2 separate regions of the Homo sapiens genome follow, and region 2 is linked to region 1. The links come from fine-mapping of genetic effects on gene expression. A gene starts in region 1. The other region holds a variant in brackets. All regions are shown on one strand. Distances are from middle to middle.

What was found.
Region 2: its variant is fine-mapped to the expression of DENND2B in whole blood (TOPMed, PIP above 0.99).

Annotation. Positions count from the first base shown.
Region 1 is chr11:8,800,636-8,817,711 of GRCh38, forward strand. DENND2B (DENN domain containing 2B) reads right to left here and starts at 10,039. Exons shown (of 20, transcript NM_213618.2): 1 at 9,882-10,039. It overlaps DENND2B-AS1 (DENND2B antisense RNA 1), which reads left to right. Exons shown (of 5, transcript NR_120590.1): 5 at 9,442-9,641. RefSeq lists enhancers at 4,961-5,462, 5,463-5,962.
Region 2 is chr11:8,903,044-8,916,911 of GRCh38, forward strand. It overlaps AKIP1 (A-kinase interacting protein 1), which reads left to right and starts at 8,146. Exons shown (of 6, transcript NM_020642.4): 1 at 8,146-8,180; 2 at 8,401-8,628; 3 at 9,410-9,490; 4 at 11,783-11,887. The coding sequence starts at 8,407. It also overlaps a transcript of DENND2B not described here. RefSeq lists a silencer at 7,911-8,190 and enhancers at 8,281-8,350, 8,361-8,450. The variant C/T (reference allele first, on the strand shown) is at 7,443.

The DNA of each region.
Region 1 (17,076 bases):
GGCTCAGCAGGCCCATAAATTGGCACTGTTGATATGACCTTTCCAGGCTGTATTTCAACAAGAGATAACAACAAAGCTCAGAGCTTTGGTAGCACTCAAAGAAGATTTGAGGGACTTAAAACACATTGCTAAATTTGGCAGCAAAAGTTCCTGTTCCCTGAAGTTGCAAAAGAAAATCTCTTTATAATTTACACTTGTAGATAAGGAGCTATTCATTCTCTTTAGAAACAGATTAGAACCTCCTCATCCCAATCCACCACTCCTCTGAAAGAGGAGTGAGACTGCTGGGGCAAGTCTCACCTGGGGCTGGGATCAGGCTATCTCTTGGGAAGATGAAGTACCAGGAACTTACCTTGATGCCTCTTACTGCCTTAGCCACAAATGCCCAGAGACATTTGCCACTTCACTATCTAGAGCCGTCTATCTCCCTCACCCTCCCATCAGCCTTCCCAATTCCCATTCTGCTCTTTGACACTGGGTCTGCCATGTCCCTATCCCTGTTGTTCATACAACACATATTACTCCTCAGAGAGGGGCCCGCTCAGCCTAGAGGCTCTTTTGATTCAGCCAGACTCCCCTTCTGGTTTATAATTTCTTTACAAAAGCAAGGTACAGGAGCTCCGATCTATATGCTGACTGGGGGACGCTTATCACTGCTCTGCTGATACCGTCTGCCCAAGACACAGAAGAAGGGGATAGGGCCTTGCATTTCTCAGCAGAACAAACCCAACAGACAAGCCACAAAGAAATAAACACAGCTGCCTGGCGTGGTGGCTCACGCCTATAATCCTAGCACTTTGGGAGGCCGAGGCAGATGGAATGCCTGAGCTCAGGAGTTCGAGACCAGCCTGAGTAACATGGTGAAACCCCGTCTCTACTAAAATACAAAAAATTAGCTGGGCATGGCAGCATGCACCTATAATCTCAGCTACTCGGTAGGCTGAGACAGGAGAATTACTTGAATCCGGAAGGTAGAGGTTGCAGTGAGCCGAGATCGTGCCATTTCACTCCAGCCTAGGTGACAGGGCAAGACTTTGTCTCAAAAAAAAAAAAAAAAGAAAGAAAGAAACAAACAAACACTCCTGAGGCTGGGTGCAGTGGCTCACGTCTGTAATCCCAACACCTTGGAAAGCCGAGGTGGGCGGATCACTTGAGCTCAGTTCGAGACCAGCCTGGGCAACATGAAGAAACCCCATCTCTATAAAAAAAATTATAAAAATCAGCCAGGTGTGGTGCACATTTGTTACTCCAGAGGCTGAGGTGGGAGGATCGCTTGAGCCAGGGAGGCAGAAGTTGCAGTGAGCCAATATCGCACCACTGCACTCTAGCCTGTGTGACACAGTAAGGCCCTCTCTTGGGGAAAAAAAAAAAAAAAAAAAAAAGGGCCGGGTGCAGTGGCTCACACCTATAATCCCAGCACTTTGGGAGGCCTAGGCAGGTGTATCACCTGAGATCAGGAGTTCAAGACCAGCGTGGCTAATATGGCGAAACCCCATCGATACTAAAAATACAAAAATTAGCTGGGTGTGGTGGTACACACCTGTAGTCCCAGCTACTTGGAAGGCTGAGGCAGGAGAATCACTTGAACCCAGGAGATGGAAGTTGCAGTGAGCCGAGATCGTGCCACTGCACTCCAGCCTGGGCGACAGTGAGACTCTGTCTGGAAAAAAAAAAAAGGAACTAAACACTACTTGGTTTACAAGAGAATAATAAACAAAACAATAACTGCAAACATTTTGTTCAGCAAGGAGGCAGGAAGTACTATTCTAGGCACTTTACATTTGGCATTTAGGCTTTGTTACAGCCCCATGAGATAATGCTACCACTGCCTCAATTTTACGGAAGAGGAACCAGGGCACGGACAAGTAACTTGTCCAAGGTTACAGAGCTATTAGGTGGCAGAGGCAGAATTTGAACCCAATCTGACCCCAGAGCCCAGGCTCTAAACATTACTCTCCTATTGGATGGCTCTTCCCCTAAGACACAGATTTGCGTCTGGGCACTAACTGGCTCACCCTAAACTCTAAAGGAGAGGGGATTGCTCAGAAAACACTGGCATTTTTCGCCACTGAGAAAAGGAAACAGTGATGGAAATATTTATTCAAAGACCTGGTCTAAGGCTACAGAGCCAAACAAATAAGTACCCCAAACATCTGTTAACCAAAATTTTCCCAGGGCACCAAGAGAAACCTACCTTCTTACTTACTAAAGGCTGAGGCCTCCTTGTACTGCCCTACGCATTGGAGAACAAGCTTCCAGCCTCCGAGTTCTGAGAACCAAGTCAAAATGCTTCCTAGAATCTGGTTGATGGGGTTAAAGAAAAGTTACTCAAATATTTTTTAAGCACCAACTATATATGTTAGCCATTTGGGGAAATAAAAAGTATAAAATATTATACTTGATTTCATACAACTTCAAGGAATCTAGTTGAAAACACAAGATATACACATTTGAAAAGTCAAGTCAGGGCCAGGTGTGGTGGCTCACATCTGTACTCCCAGCACTTTGGAAGGCCAAGGCAAGCAGATCACTTGAGGGCAGGAGTTGGCCACCAGCCTGGCCAACATGGTGAAACCCCGTCTCTACTAAAAATACAAAAATTAGCCAGGTGTGGTGGCGCACATCTGTAATCCCAGCTACTGGGGAGGCTGAGGCAGGAGAATCGCTAGAACCCGGGAGGTGGAGGCTGCAGTGAGCCAAGATCATGCCACTGCACTCCAGCCTGGGCGACCGAGCGAGACTCTGTCTCAAAAAAAATGTCAAGTCAGGATGTCAATGAGAACACTGAATCCATGCCTTCTACTTTCTGGAAGAGGAGACTGAACCCTAGAGAAGTCAAGTTACTTCCCCAAGATCACCCAGCAAATTAGAGACAGAACCAGAACTAACATCCAGACCTGCTGACTACCTGGCTGGGACTTTCTACCGCTATATGTAGGCAGAGAAATTCACAGGAAGGATGGATTATTAACAACAGCAGCAGCTAACATTTATTGAGAGCATATTTGTGTCTACAACTAAGTCGAGTGCCTTACATAAATTAACACATTGAAACCTTACAATAACCCTTTGAGGTGGGTAATATTATCACTCCCAACTTACAGATGAAAACAGAGGTTTACAGAGATGAACTCACCAGAGGTCCACAGATAGAGGAAAAACCAGACTATGGACCCTCAGAGCTGGCTGCAAAGCCTATTCTATGCTCTAAGCTGCATCTGGAAGGGTACAAGGGCAGTATTTGTGGAAGCAGGGGTAAGGAGGGCTGAGGCAGAGGCCGGGGTCTGGAGCACTGAGAGCAGCTTGTGAAGGGCCTCCAATACCACACTGAGAAAGACCTCAGGGGCTCCACCTAGGCTGGCCAGCAGGAAAGGGGCAGGCGAGAAGCAGTTCTGGATGGACGGGTCTCCCCGTCTGTGAGGAGTGAGCATCCCACAGCAGGAGGAAAGAGCTGAACCTGTGAAGCTGGGTTGACAAGGACTACCTCAGACTCAGGACTTCTGGCCTCTCCAGTGTGGGCGGCTGCCGTGTCCTCAAAATCTCATTGGCCCCTACTCCTTCCTCTTAAAGGACACTCTCAAGTACCTTCCTAACGTGTAGGCCAGGTCTGAAAGGGCAGTCCTCCTTGGCTGCTGGTGACTTTCCAAAGCAATTGTCTTTCTCTCCCTACCTTGTCCATGGCTCCCTGTGCCCTTTCTTTGATCATTCTGCCTGATGCAGCAGCCATAAGACATGGGGAGCTGTCTGTCAAGTGGCAGGAACTGAACACAAGCAGCTTTGAGAGGTGGGGAGGAAATCCTGTGTTATTAGGAAATCTTGTATTATTACACACCCAGGACTGCACAGACCCCAGACCAGACTACCTGGGGTCTTGACAGAAAGATGAACGAGATGCAAAATAGCAGCTACTTCTTTTTTTTTTTTTTTGAGACGAAGTCTTGCTCTGTCGCCCAGGCTGGAGTGCAGTGGTGCGATCTCAGCTCACTGCAACCTCCGCCTCCCAGGTTCAAGCTGTTCTCCTACCTCAGCCTCCCGAGTAGCTGGGATTACTGATACACACCACTATGCCCGGCCAGTTTTTGTATTTTTAGTAGAGACAGGGTTTTACCATATTGGCCAGGCTGGTCTCAAACACCGACCTCAAGTGATCCACCCACCTCGGCCTCCCAAAGCGCTGGGATTACAGACGTGAGCCACTGCGCCCAACCAGCAGCTACTTCTAAAAGAAGAATCTGGTTTGTTCCCAGCGTAGTAACATCAACCTGTTTGAGAGACACCAGCCCACTCTCTTCAAAATGCTGCTGTAAGTTGATAATAATATACTGGAAAGCATTGGACATTTACTATGTACCAGGCACTGGCCTATTTACAGGTATCATTTCATTTAATCCTTACCACAACTCTATCAAGTCAAGTACTATTACATCCATTCTACAGATGCCTCAAAGAAGGCTGATGCACAGAGAGATTAAATAACCTGCCCAAGGTCACACAGCAAGGTCAGGCTCTAAAGCTAGGCCTCTAAGACCCCTGAGCTATAGCTGTTCATCACTGCAGTGCACTGCAATGCATGTCAGATACTCATATTAAATGCAAATGGTTCCATCAGAATTGCTCTAAGGCAGCACCACGCACTCACTGAGTACCTAAGAGTCACTGAGAGTTGAACAAACACACCACAGGCTAGTTCATTTTAAAACCATCTACAATACTCAGTTGTCAGAACTCCATAAGGTAGCCTGTGTTCCAAGTCACAAGCACACCAAAAGTCAGTTCCTCGAACAAAACTAGAGTTTTAAAAATAGCTGACTTGATAGTTTTTTTCCAACTTTCCCATTTCCCCTTTCCTATGACTCCCTCCCACATACACCATCCTTTGACACTGTCAAGAGAAGCTTCAACACAGGCCTAGAATCCTCACCCTCCTACTTCCAGTCCTTCAGTTGGCTCTCTTCCTTCATTCGAATCGTGCTTGAAATCAGTCTGTTGGACCCTCCTCCTTTTTCCCAGCCTAAGAGCATGAGATGGTCATTAACCCTACCATCAAAACTCAGAACTGCAGCAGGTCTATGCTGCTTCTCTCTTAATCACACAGACAGAGTGGGGGAGAGAGGGGAAGAAATAACTACAACACAACGTCTATTATAACATGACATAGATGGGAGTAAGGCCCATACTTGATACTTCTGCGTTCCTCCCCAGCTCTTGGCCCAGACACTCCGTATTCACTGACTAAATGGGTGAACAGACCAATACTGCATAGATGGGCACCAGAGACACCTCTGAGCCAAGAACAAACAAACAGAGGTGTTAACCCTAATGCCAGCCACCCCTACCCCCTCCAGTGCTTCTGAGGGCCTGCACGACACTGTCACCCTGAGCTCCCTGGGGGCAGTCTGGCCTTCTGCTAAATTGTGTAGGCCTCCGAGGTCAGCCCTTCTCTCGATTACCACCTGCTGCTCCTGAGAACTGCCTCCGCCCAGGGCCCCTTGCCCAGTGCCTCACTCCTGCTTCCTTCCAGTAGTCTTCCTCCTGCCTCAGATCTTGTCTCCCGTAACCCTCAGTTTATCTCATTTTTTCCCAGTTCCAAATAATCCTCCATCCACTATGTGATTTCCAACAGTCCATCTCCAGCTCACACACAACCCCTTTGGTGATGACAGGTCACACAGAGGAAGAGTCTGGAGCTTTGAGAAACTGTGGTGGTTTCGTGACAAGCCTGTAGGAATAGGTCTGCTTTGGTTAAGAAGGCTTCATACGCTAACTGCATATAATTCACTCTTTTATAAGGACAGTGAAATCTAACATTCAGGCAGTTTTAGATGAGAAGAGTATAGTGATAGTTTCAACACCCTCCCCAACAACAGTACATTCATGACATCAGAGCCAAAAAAATAAGAGAAGGGGTCTTTGGAGAAATTCTTCAATAAGGTAATCTAGACTCATTTAACACCCTCCTCTCCCTTCAAAACACACACACACACACACACACACACACACACACCCAGGAGAGCTTTCTGGGGCCTATGGCTAGAAATAGAGAGCTCAGGTGTTTCTATCAGCACAATATTACGTGGCATATTCCTCTAAGACAGATGCACCCAGTAGTTCCTCCGACCCACCTACTGAGACAGACACACATAGCACCTCCCCTCCAGGATGAAACAAATGCCTAGCCTCCCCAGCCCCTGCCTCCCCAGGAGAAGGCACACACTAATGCAAGTTTTCCCATAGGCTTTAAAGACAAATCTCTGCAGACTATGCCAGATGGTCTTTTTTTTTTTTCTTTTTCTTTTTTCGCTCTATGCCCTCCTGGCCCCTTCTCCACTTTCCATGGTCCCTCCAACTCAAAGAACTCAATTATCTGCCTGCAGATTTCCCCTTCCCCTCCTCGCAGCCTGCCCTAAACACACCCTCCTCCCAAGCCCATGCAGAGGCACAGAAGGAAGGCCAAGCCAGGGCTCGGAAGGGCTGCTGCCAGGCCTCCTCCAGCCTCAACTATGTGTTCCCCGGGCTTGGCTGCCTCGGCCGACTCTCTTAGGCCCAACGATGGAAATGGGGACGTTTCCAGGGCAATGACAGTTAACAGCTAAGAGGAGTGACAGGAAGGAAGATGTATTCTTCAATCCTTCAGTCCCAACTGCCCCACAGGGAGGTGCTTCAGAAGGCCCAGGCCTCAGAGCCTCCCATCTCCCTGAGGTGCCAGGTGGACCTCCCGTAATGCAGTTCTTAGAATCAGATGCGGTGGGGAGTGGGGCACAGCCTCTCTTAGGTCTAGGCTACCAGTGGGGCCATGATACTTGGATTGCCCTCCTGAATCTGTACACCCCGCCCTTCATTCCAGGGAAAGAGGCTGAACCAGCAGAACCAAGGGTGTCCTTGGCCTGTTCTCCAGTGTATTTCAAAGTTTCATCTTCCCGGGGTGACTGATATCTAATTTGAGAGAGAGAGAGCCCAAGGGGAGAAGGTACAGGAAGCGGAGTAGAAGGAGGAAAGAGGGAGTGAGAACAGGAATGTTACTTTTTAATCCTTAAGGAACATAGACAGATCCAATTTGTGACTCAGCTCTGGGAAGCCGGACTGATGGGAGTCGGGGAACAGCTGCAGCCCCAATCTAAGCTGTGGGCAGCTTCTCCTTCAGGCCTTAGAGGCTGTTGTGACATGACTCAACTAGAAGGGGAGCTGCTTGTTTTGTTTCATTTTTTTAATCTGCCTACTATGGGTCTGCTCAAGGGCTTCTTCCCAGACACCACTCCGGGATATGGCTGGCAGGTCTTCCCCATCCTACAGTAAAGCTGGGGCTGTGGGTGACGCGCTCTAGTATGCCATACGCCCTTTCGACTCAATGAGGACAGACCTGGGACTCTCCTTGCCTGGAGTCTCCCTTCCCCTGCTCTTCCATTCCTTGGCACAGTCCCATGGCATATCAAGAATCTCTGCCCTTGGAATTCCCACTTCCTTGTTTCTTTTTCTTTCCCCATAAGCTGTGGCCTTATGAGTTCCTGAAAGACCTGCCCAGCCCCCAAGAAGCCTTTCGGAGCAATAACACTTTCTCCCAGTTAGAACCCTGCCTTCTAAACCCAGAATGAAGGAGAAAGACCCCTTTGCCCACTGCAGAGTGTGCCCAGCAGGACCCAGCAGGATGAGGGAACCAGGCCTGGCCTCTTTTCCAGCTGCTAAAGTTTATGGTGCCACAACTCTACAGGCAGCTGTGGGACACAGGAAAAGCGACGGGTCTTTTGGAATACCTCTCCTCTATACTATATATAAACACATGAGTCAGGTGACCAAGGAAAGCTTCCTCCCTGCAGGATCGTCTATGAGGCTCCAGTTTTATGGCAAACATCACTCTTATGAAACGACCCAACCCAAGGAAAGCAACATTTGTTTCCTTAAACATCCTGAAGAAGTCTTTTCAGATTTTTCTCATGTTTACTTATAAATGCAGAAAGGAAGAAGGCACTTTATAAAATGAGAGAACCAGAACAGAGAGGCAAAGTGACTTTCCAGAGAGAGTTGGGTCATTCCTCAAGCTTCAATTCACAACACGGTTCGTTAGATAGGACGTGACTTGTTTCAAACTACTTTCATGGAAGTTATCCCACTGGCTCCTCCCAACAGTCCTGTGAAGTTGTTCTTATTACCTCCATCTCACAGGTAAGAATCTGAAGCTCCTATTAGTTAAGATACTTGCCCGTGGCCGCCCTATGGGAACAGAATCTAGCCGTCGACTCAAGTCTAGCAACCCAAATCCATTATTCTTTCTGCTATACCAACAGAAGGAGCAGCAGCTCCTGAAACTGGGTCTCTGCTAGCCCTCTTCACAGATGTGGGGATGGTAAAATTGAAGAGCTCCAACTACACACACAAGTAGAAAAGAAGGCTGAGGTTCTGGATTTACACTGCCAACTGAAGGGGCCACTGGCTCAGTGTTATGCCACATCCCTCCAGCAAAATGTAGGTTTCAACTAAGCAAAGGATCCCTGGAGTGTATGTAGCAAGAGGAATAACTTCAGAAGTGGACCGTCTGAGGTCCAGGGCCATGGAGTTCACCCTTGTGGACCCTCAGGCCACAACCACGATGTATACATGTACTCATTTTAGGGAGCCGGAACTGGGGACATGGCCAGTGCTTGCATTGGCAAGCTGATCCGAAGTTAATCAGAATGCCCCCTCATTGTTTGCCAGAATACAAAAGACATTCTGTTCAGAAAGTTCAAGAAGAAAAACTGAAGAACCAGGACAGCAGCTGTTCCCTCATCCCACAGAGAAACCAAAGGCATTTGCAAAGTTCCCTGAGGCCAAGAAGTGAATTTAAGACATAACATGGCTCAAGTGGAAGCACAACCCCTGATGGGTCTCCGTTGCAGGAAGTGTTTGCTGCATTCATCCTCCTCATAATATTACTGACAACCCCACTACCCTATCACCTATAAAACTGCCTTTCTGGGAGGGTCTCCTTTCCAAGGCCACACAGCTCACCATGTACCACTCCTCTAGGTCAGAACAAGTTTTACCAAAACTTAGGACAATCAGTGTAGGAGTGCACAGCGTGGACACTGCGTGCCCTGAGATTTGGTCAAAATGTAACCAAAGGAATCCACCCGGCACAACTACAGTGCCTCATGTTCCCCAGCTCTTAGCAGCTGCTGCTGAGAGCTCACTCTGGGACATCTGGATGAGAAACCTGTTTGCAGGCCCCCCAACCCCAAGCCAGCCCCCTCCTCCACCTCTTAGGAAAGTCTGTGATCGACCTTTTGATGTGGGAGGACAGCTTGATTCTTACCAAGCTGCCTGGAAGAGAGAGAGTGCAAAACCCCAGCTCAGGCATCCCTGTGACAGTCCCTCTGTCCTAATAAATGCTCTAGAGGGACTTGGAACTCACCACAGGCTCCTGGCTGAGCTTAATTAGCCTTTTTTTTTTTTTTTTTTCCATTACAGGTCAGACATAGCAGCACCAAGAGACAAAACAGACAGTGTTCACTAGGACGAACAAGCGGCTCAAAAGGCACTGGAGTTTCCCTGTAAGAACTACAAACACCACGGGAGTGATGTTAACTCAGATTTTTCCATATAAAAGATTCTTCCTGTAAAAATATCCTGTGCCTTTGTGCTAAATAAAAGTAAAATGATGCTTTTTAGAGTGAAGTCTAAACACCTCAGATTCAGCAAGAGTGAGATCAGCTAGATTTGCAAAGTCAAGAAAATTGGCTGTTTCCCTCCTCCTTAAGCTAATAGAATCCAACTGTTGGAGCATGACATCATTCCTGAGCCCCAAACCCCGAGCAGAGACTACAGACACTCGCCTGACTCCCAGAAAACAGCCGGAGAGAAGGGCCAGGAAAGGAGGCCAAATGATCCCAGCCCGGAGCTGCCCTTACCTGAAAGTCCCGCTGCTTTCCTGCCCACTCCATTCTCACACCGCAGCCGGCTAGGGAGCCCAGGGCCCCCAAATCCACTGGCTTAAGCTCCGATACCTGCTGCGAGCTTCCCACAGCTCCTTCCTCTGACCTTTCGTGGCGCTCCTCGCAGCCAAGTGAGCAGAGCACTGCTAGCCGGCCAGGCCGGTTGTCATGGAGACCCTGTCCTCGCTAGGCGGGCGCGCGCACAGCGGCGCGCTCTTGGCCTAGCGCGTGCACAAGGGCGCTCTCTTTTTCTTTCTTTCTCACTGTCTCTCTCTCTCTCTCTCTCTCTCTCTCTCTCTCAGTTCTGGGAGGCTTCCATGAAACAGCACTGTCTTTTGATCAGCTCGGTTTTTGCATGCATTCCACTCCTCCTACCTCCCTTCCAGTCCAACAGGGGCTCTGAACTGCTCCTGGGAACTTGCTTGAACAGCTCAGAGGGGAGAAGGGAGAAGACAGTGAGTGGACTTGTTTTCTTCCCCTCCAGTGTCTCATTTTTTATAACTTGGAAGAATCCCTGCCAGGGGGGAGGGAGCTAGCTGAAGCGCTTGAAGGGGACCCAGCTTCCTCTGGGTCCTGGAGCTCGGGTAGGAGGGACCCTGATGCGCTGCCTTGACTTGTTTGTGCACTTGGGATTTTTCCGGGCAGCAGTTGGGGCGGAAATGCACTCACATCCCAGGAGCTCGCCTGGACTGGCCTCTCTGCTTACCTTGCTGCCTGTCCAGGTTGTGGCGATGGCTTTAACCAGTGCAGGGACTCATGGTACTAGTGGTGGCGCCTAAGCAGTCTCTCATCTTCCTGAAATGGAGAGCAAAGACAACTCGGTCAGGACCAGGAAGAATCCTGGGCAAGTCGAGAGTCACAACCCAGACGACAAACCTGATACAAATACAGCCTTGTCTCTCTGCCCTGCTAAGGATCTGCAGCTAAGGTGCAGGCTTAGTGGGAGCTGCTGTCACAGTCGGTAATAATATTGCTCCTGTCAGAAAATGAGCACAGTCCCTGGGACACGGCAGACCCCCTAAGTTTAGTCCCATCCCCATCCCCATCCTGTCCCTTCCTCTCCCCCCTACCCAGCATACATTTCTGCTTTGTAACATTCTTTTTACATGTATCATTTTGTTTGATCCTCATAACCTTTTGAAATACACTGCACAGATATTTTTATGACCATTTTTTCAAGTTTATTTATTATTCTTCTTAAATTTCTTTTAGAGACAGGATCTTGCTCCATTGCCCAAGCTGGAATGCATTGGTGCAATCATAGCTCACTACATCATCAAACTCCTGGGCTCAAACAACCCTCCTGCCTCAGCCTCTGAAGTAGCTGGGACTACAGGCATGCACCACCACGCCTGGCTACTTTTTTAATTTTTATTTTTATAGAGACAGGGTCTCACTATGTTGCCCAGGCTGGTTTTGAACTCCTGGCTTCACGCAATCCTCCTGCCTCAGCCTCTCAAAGTGCTGGGATTACAGGCGTGAGCCAGCATACTGGCCTTATGACCATTTTATAGATGGAAAAACTGAGACTCAGAGAGATTAAACATTTGATCTGCACTTATACAGTTAGGCAGTCAAAGAACTAAGAGATCAGCCAAGTTCGCCCTAGTCCAGCACACTTTCAACTAAAGTATATTGCCACCTGATTTCAAAAACTGTCAACTTTTTGATAACTGGTTATGAGATAACGCTGGGCTCCCAAGGGAAGGTGGAGAATCCTTGTAAGTTGTGGCGAGATAGGCTGACTACCATCCTTTCAGCCTAAAGACCTTAAGACAGCATCTCTAAGATGTAAAACGTCCTGATGCACAGCTCGGAGAAAAAGCCCTACCCTACAGCTATATGTGACCTTGCACTTTTCTAAACGACTCTCAAAATCTTGGCTCGTCTGTTCAACATGACAGGTCTGAAAGTTAGGATTGGCATTATTATACTAATTTAACAGATTTTTTTTTTTTAATTCTACAACAGAAGTAAAATTACTTGCCCCAGGTCATGGAACCAGGAAATAAAATCTAGAAACAATCCCCAAGCCTTTCAAGTCTCTTGAGTACATTAAGCACAGTGGTTGCAACAGCACCAGGGGTCAGAAGACCTTGGCAGTGCCTGACTCCACCACTAACGGGCCATGTGCCATTGGGCAAGTCCCATGACTTCCCCCTTTCCACCTACAGAGCCTACTGACAGGGCTGGGACTGAGCATCGGAAGAGATGCTGTCCGTGAAAGCACTCTCAAGTCAGGAACTGAACTAAGAACTTTACTCCTCTTGACAACTCCTCACCAAAAACAAACAAAAAACACTGGGACAGTTAATACCCTCCCCAGGATGAGGACACTGAGGCTTAAGGAGGATATTTTCCAATGCTGCTCCCAAAAACAGTGCTCCCAAAAAAAAGGTCCTGATGTTATTTATTTATTTATTTATTGACACGAGGTCTTATTATGTTGCCCAGGCTGGTCTTGAACTCCTGAGCTCAAGCAATCCTCCCACCTCAGACTCCTGAGTAGCTGGGATTATAGGTGTGTACTACCACACCCAGCCTGATAGAATCTTTAATGCAACATCCTATGCAGAATCTAGTGGGTTTTTTTCATTAATTTCCAGCATATCACAACATTCTCAAAACAAGATTCTGATTGACTTGAGTTTAAAAGGTAAATATATACCAGAAGTTAAGGTAGGAAAGTGTTATAAAATCCAACAGGAAATGACAGAATGGCACAAATCCTAAATGGGGGGCACTACTGCTTTAGTGAAGCAATCAGAGCTTGAAAGGGAGTGAACCTAATCACCCACTATAAATCCCCAACCCCACCCAAGCCCCAGCTGAAGAATCCCAAGTCTACAAAGAAAGACAAAGAAAGACAAGACAGAAGGGCAAATGCAGTATCATCAAATCACTAAATTTCCGCCTCTTCCTTGTCCAAAAGGCATCCCTCTGCTCTCCTCCTGATCCTCAAAATGCACATTCCACTTGCCCAGTCTCCATCCTGAGAAAGAAGGGGTGATCCCACCCCTTTCTATAATAAGATAATATTAATAATACAGTAGTAACATCAGTTAACACTTGTTGAGCACCTACCATATGCCAGGCATTCTTTTAAGCAGTATGAGGGGCCAGGGGTCAGGACTGAGTACTAGAACTGATACAAGTCAGTTCCTGAAGTAATCCAAACTTAAGAAGCCCTCCAAACCAGACCCAGAATGCGGGCCATGCTCCCCCTAGTGGCATGCTGGAGTTATGGAGGTTCCTTAGGGCCTTGTCCTGGGGGAAGGGACAAAGGAAGGGCCCCATTACTGAGAGAACTGGAATCCCTGCTTGGGTAATGCTACTGTGTACACACTCCTTGAACTGGGCAGAGTCAGGGACAGCTGAATCCCACCACTGCCTCTGCAAGGCTGGATTTAGACCAATCCTACCTGACCCTTCTGAAGGATAAGGATTTGACAACCTTATATAAGCTCTCTGCTGTCTACTGAGAGGCCTGCAAGCATACATGTGCCAGAAACCTGGGAGACATCCTCAACTCTCCCTTCTTATTTCTGCCCACATCCAACCCATTTCCCAACTGCAAACAATTCTACTTCCAAAATATATCTTTTATCTGTCCACTTTTCTCCACCTCTGATGCTACCCATCTCTCACCTTAATTATTGCAAAAACCTCCTAATTGCCCCAGCTTCCACTCTCCCCTCACAAAGTCATTAGAGCTGTCTGAATCACCTTTTTTTTTTTTTTTTTTAACACCAGATCAGGTCATTTCCTGCTTAACACACTTCATTGACTTCCCACTACACTTAAGATAAAATCTAACTTCTTACCAGGACCTACAAGGCCCAGCATGATTCTCCTCCTGCCTTCTTTCAGCACACTTCCTGCCCTTCCCTGTCTGTGCATCAGCCACATACAACTGCTTTTAGTTCCCCTGAGGTGTCATATTTTTTCCAGGTTGTTTCCCGTTGCTGGGACACTCCCCTACCAAGCAGTCTTTGCCTGGATAGCTCTTACTCACCTTGCCTCACCTTGACTCTCCTGTCTCTTGACTTTCACAATCCTCCAATCTAAATGAGGCTCCCCACACTTATCCTTCAGAGCACTCACCATGCTGTGTAATTATGCATTTATACAGTTATCTGCTTAATCTCAGTCTTCCCTCAGAAGAGTTCCTTAGGATACGAACCTTGACTATTTTGCTAACCACCAATATTCCCTGCACTTTGTGCAGGGCCCAGCTCACAGCTGGCACTCAATAAATATCTGCTGAATGAAATGCATAAAACCCCATTTCTTCCTGTCCGACAGGAAGAAGAAACTTAGAGCAGCTATTTCATGTCACTCATTGCCTCTTTTCATCGACTTACAAACTATAATTACATTTCTTTTCCTCATGTGCCTTGCCTGTGGGCACAACCAAAAATTCCTGTAAAGCCTCCCTGTGGTTTGTTTCCCAGAACTTTCCTGGTAAGGTCACTCTCCTGGGGCTGCCCTCCAGGGTTTTACAGCTGCTCCCATTACCAGTGCCCACTCACAGGCCTCCACCACCACCGGGTCATTGCCAGACCACTGTGTAGGAATGGCCCAGCTCCCACGATGACAAGGTTCTCTCAGGCCAGCAGCTCCAAGGACAAAACACCTCCTCTCCCCTCCATGGTGCAAGACACTGTGCTTGTAAAAAAATACATTTTTACTAAAAAAAAAAGTCTTATGTTTCATAATTTGGAGATGGTTGTAAAAAGTTCAGAAAAAAAGGGTTCTCTTACTAAAAAGAATTTTGAACACTACAGTCTGGTGGAAAAATGAAGGTCTAAGTAACACCAACAGCAGTGTGACTACATCCAACGTTCCCTCTTCTGGCCTACGCTCCCACCCAAATCTGAAATCCTCTGGCTTCATCTCTTGCCCACACCTCCCCTGCTACCAACCACCCGATTACAGGCACAACCACAGTGCACTGCCTGGTTCTTTGAACACTGCCTGCATTTTCCTCTCCCTCCCTCTATGGCTCATGCTGTTACCTTTATCTGAATGCCTCTCCTTCCCCCACTAACAAAATCTTACTGCCTTCAAGGTCCAACTCATTTATCACCTCCTCTGTAAAATATTTTTCAATCTCCTGATAGAATCTGTTTGTCTCTTCTGCAAATCAACAGCAGTTTAAAGATGCCTTTACTATAGCGTTGATATCACTTTATCACTGTTACTTGCACACCTGTCTCCCCCACAGACCTGAGCTCCTCGAGGTGTATCCACTTTAGTATTTCATTCAATGTATGCAATAAGTGTGTGTGAGATAAACGAATCATTGAAAAGACTCTCCAAACAAACAAACAGAAACAGCTATTTCCTCTCTTAAGGTGAGGGAATTTGAGTGGATGGACCTACATTGTACAAGAAAATACATATATGTAAATCGGATTTTGGATTAGGTCACTAGAGGGGTTTATAGTACTTTCTTGTCTCTTTAAAGACAACTGAAATTCTGAACCTGAAAACACAGGAACAGAGTAAATCTTTTCAAGTCATTCCTTACTTTGGGATCAAAGAAATTCAAGTAAAATGGGCTGTTCTTTCAATATTATTGGTTGGATCTTAGAATGCCTAAGAAATGGCAGTCTAATTTCAAATGCCTCTGGGAAGCCTAGTTTCTAATGCCCCCCAGACTGGGGTCCAGTGGTATTCCCACTGAAAACATCCAGTTCTACCAAATTAATGGGTGATCAGGTCAAGTGCAGTGGCTCACACCTGTAATCCCAGCACTCTGGGAGGCTGGGGTGGGAGAATTGCTTGAGCCCAGGAGTTCAAGACTAGCCTGGGCAACATAAGGAAACCCTATCTTTACAAATAATAATTTTAAAAAATTGGCTGGGCATAGTGGCACACGCTTGTGGTCTCAGTTACTTGGGAGGCTGAAATGGGAGGATCGCTTGAGCCTGGGAGGTTAAGGCTGCAGAGAGACATCATCGCATCACTGCACTACAGCCTGGGTGACAGAGCAAAACTGTGTCTCAAAAAAAAAAAAAAAAGGTGGGGGGAATCAAACATATTCCTCTCCACCAATTCTCCTACACTGGGTTCTAGCTGCCATTTATAGAAGAGCCCTTAAGGGCTTTACAGTTTTCCTCTTCTGCCTGTGAATGGCAATGTGGTCAAGAGGGAAGCTTTTAAAATTCAAGAGTAGACAGCTAGCAGGCTGGAGCCCAGTCCTGGCTTCCAGCTTTCTGGAATGGTAAAATCCTAGGCAAGTCCCTGTCTCCCTTAGGGGCCTTTGCTTTTTCCTCCACATGAGAGGGCTGGACTAGCTGTTCAAGCATCCTTCGGCTTGACTGTCCTACTGCATCATTCTACGCAGTCACCCAGTCCTACTGCTTTCTAAGTCCAAAGCAGCAGAAAGACTCCTTTCAGCAGAGCCCCGGGCTTGGGGCTTTGGGATCAGACAGAGGTCCATCACCAATGAACAGTAGCCTTTTTTAGAAGAAAAAAAATGGAAGACTCAGGCTTCCTGCCTAAGGAGGGCTGGACAGAGAAGAAAGGTGCTAAATTACAGAATGGGGAAATTAGGAAATGGCCTGGAAGAGGACTAAGGCTCCTGCTGAGGTCCTTGCTCAGACTCACCCCTATCCATAAGTCTGAGACAAAGTTGCCTTTACAAAGCAGACATTGAACAGCTGACAATACCTAAGTTCTCTTGGAAGACAATCTGTCTACTGCAAATCAAGCATTCTCTACCTGGGTGCTATGAGGGCCTTCAGATCAACAAAACAAATGTCTTCCTCAAGATGGCAATCCTGGGCCCCCTCCACCTGGAAGCCACATCTGGCAGGACCTGCACAGTGTTGACCACTGCCACACAAACTTTGCTTGCACAGCCTTCCTAGGAAGGCAGAGAAATACCCATTCTGTGGTCAAGTCCTAGTGTTTTATGATAGGAAGTTTTCCCAGGTCCTTACTCCTGACCTAATTCCCCCTGCCTCTCCTACCACCAGCACCCCACCCCTGACCTTAAGGCTCTGAACTAGGGAAGTGTGGAATTCAGTCTATAATTCTTCTAGACCCCACAGCCCTGCAGTGAAGCAGCTACCACACACCTTCATGCTAGGTTGCGCCCCCTCTCCTTCAGTCTGCCAGTCATCCAGCCCTAGTTCACCTCCGCTCAGCTCACAACCCTCCG
Region 2 (13,868 bases), 100 kb after region 1:
GAGATGGGGCTTCACCATGTTGGACAGGATGGTCTCGATCTCTTGACCTCATGATCCACCCACCTTGGCTTCCCAAAGTGCTGGGATTACAGGCATGAGCCACCACACCTGGCCATCTGTATTTTTTAAAGTTTTATTTATTTATTTATTTTTTGAGACAGAGTTTCACTCCAGCATAGGCCAACATGGTGAAACCCTGTCTCTACTAAATATACAAAAATTAGTCGGGTGTGGTGGCATGCACCTGTAATCCCTGTTACTTGGGTGGATTAGGCAGAAGAATCAATCACTTGAACCTGGGAGGCGGAGATTGTAGTGAGCTGAGATTGCACTACTGCATTCCAGCCTGGGTGACAGAGTGAGACTGTCTCAAAAGAAAAAAAAAGGATATTACAAGTTGACAAAACTTTAACTAGACTGACCAAGATGTTAAAAAAAAAAAAAAAAAAGCAAGAGAGAGAAGGCACAGATTACCATAATCAGATCTTAAAGAAATAAAAAAGATTGTGAGGGAATATTACCAATAGCTTTTTGTCAACAAATTAGACAACTTAAGTGACTGGGCAAATTCTTAGACACCAAGTATTGAAACTGACTCAAGATGGAATAGAAGATCACTTGAGTTCAGGAGTTCAAGACCAGCCTGGGCAACATGGCAAAACCACATCTCTACTACAAAAAGTACCAAAAAAATTAGGTGGGCCTAGTGGTGATGCATGCCTGTAGTCCCAGCTACTCGAGTGGCTAAGGTGGGAGAATCACCTGAGCCCAGGGAGTTGAGGCTGTAGTGAGCTGTGATTATGCCACGGCACTCCAGCCTTGGCAACAGGAGTGAGACCTTGTCTCAAAAAAAAAAAAAAAAAAAAAAGAAGGAATAGAAAATATAAGTAGACCTAAAACAAGGAAAAAAGTTGAATTAGTAATTAAAAATCTTCCCACAAAGTAAAGCCCAGGCCCAGATGGTTTTAATCAAATGCTTAAGAATAATACCAATTCTACACACTCTTCCAAGAAATAGAACATTCCTAAATCATTCTATAAGGCCAATATTATCCTAATACCAAAAGACACAAAGACCAGAAACAAGAAAACTAGAGATCAATATCCCTCATGAATATACACAGAAAAATCCTCAGTAAAATACTAGCAAACCAAATTCAACAACGAAAGATTGGCTTAATATCCAAAAATCAATTCATTCAACACATGTTAATAGAATAAAAAATAAAAACCACATGATCACATCAATGGACATACAAAAAACGTCTGAAAAACTTCAAAAATCATTCATGATAAAAACTTTCACTAAACCAGGAATAGAAGGAAACTTCTTCTCAACCTGAAGAAGCTAATTAAAAATAATTTTTAAAGATAGATGAGAACTTCCTTAACCTAATAAAGAGTATCTACAAAAAAACAAATATCATACTTAATGGTAAAAGGCTGAATGTTCTGCCTCTAAAATTGGGAACAAGGCAAAGATGTTCCCCTTGCCACTTCTATTCAACATTGTACTACAGGTTCAAGCCAGTGCGATTAGGCAAGAAAAAGAAGTCCTGATTGAAAAGAAAAAAGTTAGCCTTTCTTTATTCACAGAAGATCTGATCCAGTATACAGAAAATCCTAAAGAATCCACAAAAAAATTCTTAGAACAAGTAAATGAGTTTAACAAGGTTACAGGATACAATATCAATATGAAAAAGTCAACTATATTTCTATACACTAGTAATAATTTCATCTGAAAATGAAATTGAGAAAACAATTTCATTCACAACAGCATAAAAATACTTAATAAATTTGTTAAAAGAAGTGCAATATGTACACTAATCACTACACAATATTAGTAAAAAAAATAAAGAAAACTGAAATAAATGGACAGACATTCCATGTTCATAAATTCAAAAACCCAATATTGTTAAGATTGCAATTCTTCCTCAATTAATCTGTGAATTCAATATAATCTCTATCAAAACATCAACAGTTGTTACACAGAAGTTGACAAACTGAATTTAAATTTTATGGAAATAATGACTGTACTAGAATATAAAAATAATTTTGAAAATGAAGAACATAGTTGATATACTTCCCAATTTCCAAACTTACTACAAAACTACAATAATCAATACAGTATAATATGGCATAAGGACAGACATATAGATCAATAGAACATAATTTAAAGTCTAAAAGCTAACTCTTACATTTATGGTGAATTGATTTTTGACAAAGTTGCCAAGGGAATTTAATGAGAAAAGGATAGTCTTTTATACAAATGATACTGAGAAAATTGAACATCTGCATGAAAAGAAATGAATCTAGACCCTTACCTCATAATGCACATAAAAATTAATGCAAAATGGCATAGAGTTAAATGTAAAAACTAAAATATACAACTATTAGGAGGAAACATAGAAAAAATCTTCAAAAAAAATTTTCATGACCTTAGGTTAGGCAAAGATTTCTTAGATATAACACCAAAAGCACAATTTATAAAGGAAAAAAATTAATAAGTTGGAGTTCATCAAAACTTTAAATGTTAGTACTTCAAATTACACCACTAAGAAAATGAAATACATGACACAGCCTGGGAGAAAATACTTATGAATCATACATCTGGTGTGGGTGCGGCGGCTCAAGTCTGTATTCCCAAGAGAAATGAAAACATGTGTCCACACAAAGTCTTACTATGCATTATCAGTCAAAATAGCCCCAAACCAGAAACATTTCAGATGACCATCAACCAGTAAATGGATAAACAAAATGTAATATATTCATATAACGGGATAGTATTCAGTCATAAAAAAGAATGAAGTATTGATACATGCTACGACATGTGTGAGCCTCAAAAACATTATGCTAATTAAAAGAAGCCAGGCAAAAAAAGGTCACATATTATCAGATTCCATCTATATGAATTGTCCAGAAAAGGCGAATTCATAAGACAGCAAGCAGAAGACTGGTCACCTAGGACCAGAGGCAGGAGCTGAGAACTGACTGCATATGGTATACACTAGGGATTTTTCTCAGGTAATGACAGTGTTCCAAAACTGCACTTTGGTGATGTTGACAACTCTGTAAATTTACAAAAAATACTGAAATATACACTTAAGACAGGTAAATTTTATCATATGTACATTATACCTCAATAAAGAAGTCTTTTTTTTCTTTTTTTTTTTTTTTTTTGAGATGGAGTCTCGCTCTGTCACCCAGGCTGGGGTGCAGTGGCGCGACCTTGGCTCACTGCAAGCTCTGCCTCTCAGGTTCACGCCGTTCTCCTGCCTCAGCCTCCCCTGGGACTACAGGCTCCTGCCACCACGCCCAGCTAATTTTTTGTATTTTTAATAGAGATGGGGTTTCACCGTGTTAGCCAGGATGGTCTCAATCTCCTGGCCTCGTGATCTGCCCATCTCAGCCTCCCAAAGTGCTGGGATTACAGGTGTGAGCCACCGCGCCCAGCCAAGAAGTCTTCAAAAAAAAAAAAAAAAAAACTCTACATAAATTTCAACTGTTTATATTAAATATCTTCCAAATACTATTCCTTTGATCTCTGACTTTTAAAAATGACAAGATTTCAATCATTCCTGCTCTGCAACCAATTTTTTTAACTCCCAGTCAATTTTAAACAGATTGTGAAAGTTAATTCTCAGAAGTTTGATTCATTTTCTTTAATCTACATCATCAAGATGACAATTTTGATAATGAGTTTCTTTCATTCCCCCAATAACCCAGTGAGATGATGTAATCAGGCAAAATGAATGATCTAATGACTCAGTCTGTAATACTACCTTACAAAGCTGTGATGATTCCAAAGCTCTTAAGTCTGCTGGAGAAATAACAATACCATTTGTCAAATAAAATGATTTATACAGTTTCTGGTATGTACAGTATAAATCACTGTCTAACTCTGGCACAGTACCCACTTTTGCATCCTGGGTTTTTAACCCTTTTTGGCCCCCTTCACATAAAGAAAAGGAATTTACATTGCTCTTCACTGGACTTGTTTTTTCTCCTCAAAAAGTCCCAAATACAGCACCAGTCTCTTTCCCCATTTCACAATTAAAGACCTCTTCCAACGCATCTCCTCCAAAACATAGAACCCTGACAACTAACTTTCATCTGTTCTCATTAGTGAATTTACCCTTGTGAAGATAGAAGTCATTAAAAACTCATATCAATAGTTTATTTTTCTGTCAATACTGACAGTCTATTTCCCTGTTGACCAGGCACATTCCTAATTAGTTGCCCTCTCTCCATTTACAATTCCATTTTCAGTTCTCACCAGTGGCTTTCATTTGGCGTGGGCTATATTTGATCCACAAGGGGCCTGATGGTAGGTCATGTTCTATCATTATTCCCAGCCAATCTTAAAAAAGATAAAAAGGAATCTCTCAAGTCTCTCAATCTGTGGTTTACAGGATGAATCTTTAAAATTATAAATATGCACATATAAAAATATATTTACAAATATATTTACAAATAGAAAAATAAAAACAAATGCAAAGATTTAATTTAGAGTCTTTTGGTTTCAGTTTCATTTCAAGCATCTTCTTTCCCATAAATTTCTAAATGTTAAATTCTGAGAAAATGTAGTTACAATTGAATATTCATTACATTCATTAAAGTTCATGTAGGTAGGTGTTTTTTTAATAGAAAAGCCAACTCTTTTTTTTCTTAAGATAGGTTCTTACTCTGTTGCCCCGGCTGGAGGGCAGTGGCACGATCATAGCTCACTGCAGCCTCAACATCCTGGACTCAAGCAATCCTCCCATCTCAACCTCCCGAGTAGCTAGGACTACAGGTATGAGCCACCATGCCAGGCTAGTTTTTTAATTTTTTAAAAAATAGAGACAGGGGTCTCACTATGTTGCCCAGGCTGCTGTCAAACTCCTGGCCTCAAGTAATCCTTCCACCTCAACCTCCTGAACTTCTGGGATTACAGGTGTGAGCCACCACAAAGCCACCTCTTTATGTGGGCTAACAGAAGTCTATTTAACTTAAAAATTAAATCAGAGTAATTTCAACAAATGGCTACTGAACACCCGCTACTTAACAGGTCCTGGAATGTTTAGGGACAAATAAGGAACAGTTTCTGCCTTCAAGGAATTGAAAGGCTATTGGGAGAGAAGAAACCATAACTACACATAATTTAAATTAGATTGGAAAAGTACACACAAAAAATTTTTTTAAGGCTATGGCAACAGAGGTGGCAACTGGGAACCACTGGGAAAAGTTTCAAAGAGCTGACCTGACAAAAAGAAAGTAGTGCCTCAACTGGAATGACTAAAATAGAATGGGGAAGAGAGACAAATGAGATGAGGTGTGGCTATGATACTGGGTAAGTGAGAGCATATTTTGGGAGACCAGGCTGAAGCTTAAGATAATAATACTAGCTAATATTTATTGAGCACCTACTATGTACCAAGTACTATAAATGCACTTTATAGATATTAACTTACTTGATATTCACAATAACCCTATGAGGAATGTGCTAAAACCTTGAAATCCATAAAAAATAAAGAGGACCAAATTCTGTCCCACTCCAACCACACTTATTGTAAAAGCAGTTAACGGGTATCTTATCTACCTCTTCTCTCACTGATTCCTAGGCCATCAGGCCTAGCTTGAAAACTACATTCTCTGCAAAACCTTTCTTGATCCTCCCAGCTGAACATAGTCTCCTAAGCTTGATAGCATTTTATCTGTGTCAATCTTATGGCATGTCCGAATATTTTGTTCTTGGTATTATAGATTTTATGTGCATTCTTTCCTCTTTTTTATTCTCCTTTAGTCTGATCCACATTCTGTTCTCCACAACTCCTAGGGCAGTGCCTGGCACATACTAATGCTAGCTAAGTCTATGGAGCACTTATCTTTGCCGGGCACTGTGCTAAGCATTTTACAGGAATTATCTCACAGAATCCTAATGGCAACCCAATTCACACATTCAAGGGCTATTTTTAGTCCTTACTGTGACAGACAAAATAGTAAATACTAGATGCACCTTAAACTCTAAACACTACAGATACAGTCCCTTCCCTCAAGAAGCTCAGTCTAAAGAAGTTAGTACTATTGGAATCCCCAGATATAGAGATGAGGAAAAGTGAGGCTCAAAGAAGTAATATGTTTGCCCAGAACCACAGAGCAAAAAAGTGGCAGAGAGCCTGGGCAACATAGGGAGACCCTGTCTCTACGAAACATTTAAAAAATTTGCAGGGCGTGGTGGCTGAAGAAGAGGATCGCTTGAGCCCAGGAGGTCGAGGCTGCAGTGAGCCGAGATCGTGCCACTGCACTTCAGCCTGGCTGACAGGGTGATACCCTCGTTTCTTTATTAAACAAAAAAGAAGAAGAAGGAAGAAGGAAGAAGAGGAAGAAGAGGAAGAGGAAGGAGGAGGAGGAGGAAGAAGGAGAAGGAGAAGGAGAAGGAGAAGAAATGGAAAAAAAAAGATGGCAGAGCCAGAATTCAAACCAGCTCTCCCGAGTGGATATACAGGACCCCATGCACGTACAACCACTATGTTCTAAAGGAGGCACTTGATAAACCCTTATTGAAGGAAATGTTTTGGAATACCAATAAAATGAAAAAAAAATCATCTCAAGAATAATGTAGGGTTTCACTCACTGTTATTCTTTTTTATAAGGGGAAAGCAGGAAATTTGCAAAAGTTAAGTAGCATAGAAGGAGGTCGTATTGGTCGGCTACTACTCACCTGGTACCTGATAATTGCTCATCAAGCCATCTGTTGAGACTAGGTGAGGATGGAGTTTCTCTCCTTTTTCATGAACCACAGAGGAGACTTAAAGGAGGATTTATTTGTGTTCCTTAAAGTGACCCCCACTGAGCGTGTCCCTCAAAGTGGACCTTCCTAAGCATCGGCGCTTTGCTTTGCGCTGGGTGGTGCGGCTGAGTCACTAATTAGCAGTGAGAGCCTGGGCTGTATCTCCTACCAAATAACCAGCGGAGTGGAGTGACAGGTCCTTACTTAAACATGGTTTAAGTAAGCATTCACAGTTCCTTACTTAAACATGGTGCAGTCTTCCTAAAAGATGGAGTCAGACCCCAAGAGAACAGGTCTCCAAAAATATGTGAATCCGTACTTCCCACTGGAGGGGAGAGAGAGCTGCGCTGAGGGATTATGAGAGACCCTACAACTTCTCAGGCGCCCCCTGCCCCGGGGGCCAGGAACATCTGCAGACAGCCCCGCCTCCGTCTCGCCTCAATCCCGAGCTGTTCCCTTCTCCAAAGGCCACCTTGGCAGCCACACAGTTTGGCCTAATCACCTCCTCAAACAAGAGTAGCGACACCCCAAAATGTAGACCAAGCAGAAAGAGGCGCGGGAGGCACTTGCCTTATTCCCCATGATGTTTTTGTTTTGAGACGAAGTCTTCCTCTGTCGCCCAGGCTGGAGTGCAGTGGCGCGATCTCGTCTCACTGCAACCTCCGCTTCC[C/T]GGGTTCAAGCGATCCTCCCACCTCGACCCTCCCGAGTACCTGGGACTACAGATGCGCGCCACCACTCCTCCTACTGTGTGTGTGTGTGGACACGGGTTGTCGCTATGTTGCCTACCTAGCTGGTACCCCATAACCACTCCTGGCTAGTGTGTGTGTGTGTGTGTGGACACGGGTTGTCGCTATGTTGCCTACCTAGCTGGTACCCCATAACCACTCCTGGCTAGTGTGTGTGTGTGTGTGTGTGTGTGTGTCTACACGGGTTCTCGCTATGTTGCCTACCTAGCTGGTACCCCATAATTTTTTAGCTCAACAGGAGACCTGCCTTTATACCCACCAAGTTAAGCAGCGCAGTAGCCCTCTAAGGGCCAGCCCCACGCCCAGAGGCTCCTCTGACAGCGTGGACAGATGCCCTGGGCTGCTGGCTCGACTCAGTCCTCAGCCCCCAGCCCCCGACCCCCGACCCCCGGCCCCCGACCCCCGACCCCCGGCCCCCAGCGCCCGGCGCCCCGCCTCCAGCGCTCAGCAGTTAACCAGGCAACTCGCGCGCAGACGCCAAGGCTGGGACGCAGAAGGCGTGTTTGGCCGCCCAGCCGCCCCGCCTCCCCCACTTCTCCCGCCTCTCCCGCCTCTCCCGCCTTCCGCCAATGGCCCAGCTGCGCCGGCGCCGCCGGGAGCGCTAGGCCTGGTCCCTCTTCCTAGAATAGCGTTGCGCGCATGCGCCTTGACGAGTGAGCCGGGTGAGGGGGCTCCCTAAGTAGCGGAAGGGGTAGATGAAAATGGAAGGGGCGGGCGCGCTAGGCCTAGTCCTGGCTGGGCTCCCGCTGGAGTGTGCGTTGGGGGCGGACCAGGAGCGGTGGTCTCCAGGGAGGTCGAGGCTGGGGCTCCCACCCGGATTTGGAGCAGGGTCGCCGCGGCCCAGCTGACCCGCCGGCGTTTGTACGTTGTGTGCCCACTCAGGGAGCCATGGACAACTGTTTGGCGGCCGCAGCGCTGAATGGGGTGGACCGACGTTCCCTGCAGCGTTCAGCAAGGCTGGCTCTAGAAGTGCTGGAGAGGGCCAAGAGGAGGGCGGTGGACTGGCATGCCCTGGAGCGTCCCAAAGGCTGCATGGGGGTCCTTGCCCGGGAGGCGCCCCACCTAGAGAAACAGCCGGCAGCCGGCCCGCAGCGCGTTCTCCCGGGAGAGGTGAGGGTCGCTGTGCCGGGGGCCGCCCCAGTCCTTCGCGCCGCGGTAGCCCGCTGGGAGCCAGGGGTGCGCAGCGCAGAAGCAGCTGAGGAAACCTTCCCTTAGCGGAAGCTGGAAAGGATCAGAACAATGAATGGAAAAGTCCTTTCAAAACGCTTTACATTTGACAGATTCTTGTTGGGTAGCTGTAGAATAACGGTAGTGTTCAGCCCTGGTTGGTTACTTAAAAAAAAAAAAAAAAATTAGCCGGGCGCGGTGGCTCATGCCTGCAATCCCAGCACTTTGGGAGGCCGAGGCGGGCGGATCACCTGAGGTCGGGAGTTCGAAAGCAGCCTGACCAACATGGAGAAATCCCGTCTCTACTAAAAATACAAAATTAGCCGGGCGTGGTGGCGCATGTCTGTAATCCCAGGTACTAGGGAGGCTGAGGCAGGAGAATCGCTTGAACCCGGGAGGCGGAGGTCGCGGTGAGCCGAGATCGCGCCATTGCACTCCAGCCTGGGCAACAAGAGCGAAACCTCCGTCTCAAAAAAAAAAAAAAAAAAAAAATCTTACAGCTATCATCTGATAGTAGAGGAAAGCCTGCAAGCCTGTCTCTTAGATCCTGGATAAATTGCATGTCTATCTTTTAGAGTTGGAATTCTTTCTCAATAACATCGTTCTTTCTGACATAAACTTGCAGAGCCTTTCCAAAAGTAAAAAGGAGACTATTTCCAAAATGGCTTCATTCTCCAGTAGGGAATCCTAGAGCTAACCTGTGACGTGCCATTTATTCAAATAGAGAGAAGAGAGACCCCCAACCCTTAGTGCTTCCTTCAGAACAATGGCTGAATTCATGGACTATACTTCAAGTCAGTGTGGGGTAAGTTGGTGTGAACCAAAACTATGCCCCATCACCTGCTGATGGACCACATTTGGATCTTTCTGGAATTTACGGAGAATCTGGACACTACCTGTTTCTCCTGCCCAGCCTTCACGGTCAGATTGTAATCAGTCAAGGACTTAAACCAGGGGGTAAATCCAAGTTAGAATTCACCCAATAAATGTTTATTGAATGCCTAACCCTGTAGCTGACAATATAGCAATGAAAAGTCAGAAAAGGTCTTCTGCCCTCAGTGATCTTTCAGTCTAGTGGGGGGAAAATAGCTTATTTGCCGAATTTCATAGCAAATAAGTTAAATATTAGGGGTTTTTTTTAACTTTTTTTTTTTTTTTTTTTTTGAGACAGAGGCTTGCTCTGTGGCACAGGCTGGAGTGCAGTGGTGTGATCTCGGCTCACTGCAAGCTCTCCCTCCTGGGTTCACACCATTCTCCTGCCTCAGCCTCCCTAGTAGCTGGGACTACAGGCGCCCACCACCACGCCCAGCTAATTTTTTTTTTTGTATTTTTAGTAGAGACGGGGTTTCACTGTGTTACCCAGGATGGTCTCCATCTCCTGACCTCGTGATCCGCCCGCCTCAGCCTCCCAAAGTGCTGGGATTACAGGTGTGAGCCACCGTGCCCGACCTTTTTTTTTTTTTTTTAATTGAGACAGAGTCTCACTCCATCACCCAGGCTGGTGTGCAGTGGCTCAGTCTCGGCTCACTGCAACCCCTACCTCCTGGCCTCCTGGTTCAAGCGATTCTCCTGCCTCAGCCTCCCGAGTAGCTGGGACTACAGGCACATGCCACCATGCCTGGCTAATTTTTGTATTTTTAGTAGAGACAGGGCTTCACCATGTTGGCCAGGCTGCTCTGGAACGCCTGACCTCGAGGGATCCGCGCATCTTGGCCTCCCAAAGTGCTGGGATTACAGGCTTGAGCCACCATACCCAGCCAAGTCATCTTTCGATACTTAGGGAATGTTGAGGGCAGGCCAGAAAACATTCAAGGAAATTACCTGCATGGAAGGCACTGTCTTCTAGGAATTACAGCAGGCTCTGGCCTCATGCAGTCTTAACACTTGGTGAGTCCTACATGGTTTTAAGGAGGCTGATCCACAAAGGAGATGGAAGAGAATACCTTGTTTCTGCCCTGCTTTTCAGTTTCATATGTTAAGATCTCAAAAAACTCTAATCTTTCTACATCTTTTATAAGAATCCCTGACTCCAAGAATAGGATTCCAACCAAAGAGGAATACTTCAGGGAATATTTTTATCTTATTTGTGTTGTTCAGTGGTTTTACAAAAATCAATAGCCTCAACTCTACTGTAAAGTGATTAAACCCTTGGTTCATGGTTCAGCAAAAGGAATAATATTTGTCTTTGGTTTGAGGTTTAGCAAATTGCTGTTCTTCATTTTTGTTTTCAGTTCATGCTTCAGTTCAAGTCTCTGTTATGAAATGGAGCCTCAGAACCTCTTGGCTTTCTAGAGATAGAATTAAGAATTGTGTACTGGGTTTGTCTCCACAGTTTGAAGCAGCCACTAAAACACATCTTTAGGTCTGTGTCCTCAAGTGCTTTCCCCAGCTTCTCGTTCTTCTGGTCACATGTTTTTTAGACAGTGTGCCTACCCTGTTCAAAACAAGCAGGGCTGTGATGTCATTAGTCATTATCAAGGGCAAGTCTAAGGCTAACTTTGAGGGGGAGGAAGGAAGCAGACAAGAGAAATGTAACTGTTTTCCGATCTTTCGGAAGATTCTTCTTAAATTAGAGACTTCTCCCTCCACTCCCCCACGCGCAGGAAGCACAGAGAAAAGGGCTGCAGAGCAGCTCTTGGGTTTGTTTCATTTCCTGCTGTGTTTCTAAATCTCAGGAAAATGTACCCCTCTCTTCCCGTGTCCTGGTCTGAGACTTAGACAATAAACATGGAACCGTTCATCCACATTTTTTAGGGGAGGAAATGAAAGGATATGTGCATTGGACATGGGGGCAAAGATGTGAAATTTGTTTAACCTGGCAGAGAGCATGGTCCTGCCCACCTTTAGTTAGCCAGCGTTCTTGCCCTATGGAGGCAGCAGGTGGCAGCACGGGGATGCCAAATGCATTTCTTTCTCTGCAGCCACTTTGGGTGGGCTAAGGTTTGTTGCATGACTTCAGAGGCCTGTCAAGAGGGCAGGTAATTCACCTTTGCTCTCTTGCCTCCCTCCTTAACTGCACTTTGCCCAAATATCAGGGTTTTTTGAAAATTTGACAAGACAATTTGGTTAGCTAACATCTTTGACATTACGTCTCTAGAAATATTATTCATCTGTGCCAGAGGAAGGAGGGGCAACCCATGTCTATCGTTATCACAGAGGCGAGTCGAAGCTGCACATGTGCTTGGACATAGGGAATGGTCAGGTAAGTGTACTCAACTGTCCTGCACCATGCCTTCAGTCTACCAAGATATGACACCCTATATTCAAGAGCCCCTGCTAGACTTTGTGTCACTGGATGCCCGTGTGACTTGGCATTACAGTGCTTAACAGAAATGTGTAAATTCATAGCCTTAGAGAACTTACAGCAATGAACATGAAATAGGAGGTTGTCAAAAATATAAGATTGATGCCACTGTAGGATCTTTAGTTGAACCTGCAGTCCTGGGCCATGGGATTCTCCAGCAGGTTTAAAGAAAAGAGCTTCCAAGCCTGGAATGTGGTGTATGCAATGATCGCCCCTGTGACTATCCCCTGCATTCTATCCTGGGCAACATAGACCCTTTCTCTAATTTTTTTTTAAAAGAGCTCTAAATATCCTCTTCTACATCTAGGGATAGGATTTTTTTTTTCTTTTTTTTTTTTTTTTTTTTTTTGAGACAGGGTCTTACTCTGTCACCCAGGCTAGAGTGCAGTGGAGCAATCATGGCTTACTGCAGCCTTGACTTCCTGGGCAGGTGATCCTCCCACCTGAACCTCCCAAGTAGCTGGGACTACAGGCACATGCCACCACACCCAGCTAATTTTTAATGTTTTTAATAGAGATGGGGTTTTGCTATGTTGCCCAGGCTGGGGGAAAAGATTTTTAATAATTACATTTTTTACTATAAGGTGATAACTGTCATGTCTTTGGTAATTTTTTTTTTTTTTTGAGAGGGAGTCTCACTCTGTCACCCAAGGTGGAGTGCAGTGGTGCGATCGCGGCTCACTGCAACTTCTGCCTCCCAGGTTCAGACAATTCTGCCTCAGCCTCCCAAGTAGCTGGGACTACGTGCACACACCACCAGCCCAGCTAATTTTTGTATTTTTCTTTCTTTTTTTTTTTTTTTTTTTGTGGAGTCACAGTCTTGCTCTGTTGCCCGGGCTGGAGTGCAGTGGCACAATCTCAGCTCACTGCAAGCTCTGCCTCCCTGGTTCACGCCATTCTTCTGCCTCAGCCCCGAGTAGCTGGGACTACAGGCGTTGCCACCACGCCTGGCTAATTTTTTGTATTTTTAGTGGAGACGGGGTTTCGCTGTGTTAGCCAGGATGGTCTCGATCTCCCGACCTCGTGATCCGCCTGCCTCGGCCTCCCAAAGTGCTGGGATTACAGGTGTAACCCACCGCGCCTGACCCATTTTTGTATTTTTTAATAGAGACAGAGTTTCACCGTGTTGGCCAGGCAGGTCTTGAACTCCTGACCTCAGGTGATCTGCCTGCCTCAGCCTCCCAAAGTGCTGAGATTACAGGCGTGAGCCACCATGCCTGGCCCCTGTCTTTCATAATTTTTAAAAAGAAAGTACAAGGGAAGTGTGGGGACGGGGGTCTCTTTTAACAAAATACTTTTTGTAAAGGTAATAACAGTTACGGGCCTCTCACTACAAACTTACCTTTTACCACATGTCATTCTGGGGAAGCCAAAGATTCTGCTTATTGAACTGATTCAAAGGAGGAGGTGGTGGTGGTGGTTTCTGAGGAGACTAGGTTTTTGCTTTTGTTTTAACCTACCCTACTTGTACTCAAAGATAGCAAACTGAAGTCCAGAGTCTATTCCAGAGTCTAAGTTGGATTCCTGACTTCTTTGGTCTGTCAGCCATTTTGGGGTGTTAGAGGGAGGAAGTTTAGGAAAAGGATGGGAGAGTGGGCACAGGGACATGAGCAAGGGCTGAGTGCACACTCGAAGCACCTCCCACATGCCTCCCCTGGCCTGGGAGGTGAGTAGTGGTGCCAGAGCTTGAGTCCTGAGCCCCCTTTTCTGGCCTAGCCTGAACTCTTACCTAAACGCACCTGACCCTAAAGGGTGCACTTAGGTACATGTGGGGAAGAGTCGTTCCCATCTCTCCCTTTAAAATGTAAGTTCCCTCTAAGGGAAATTGGCTTTATCAGTCAGCCTGTTCCCTTCTAGGACCACCCCCACTCCTAGAAGA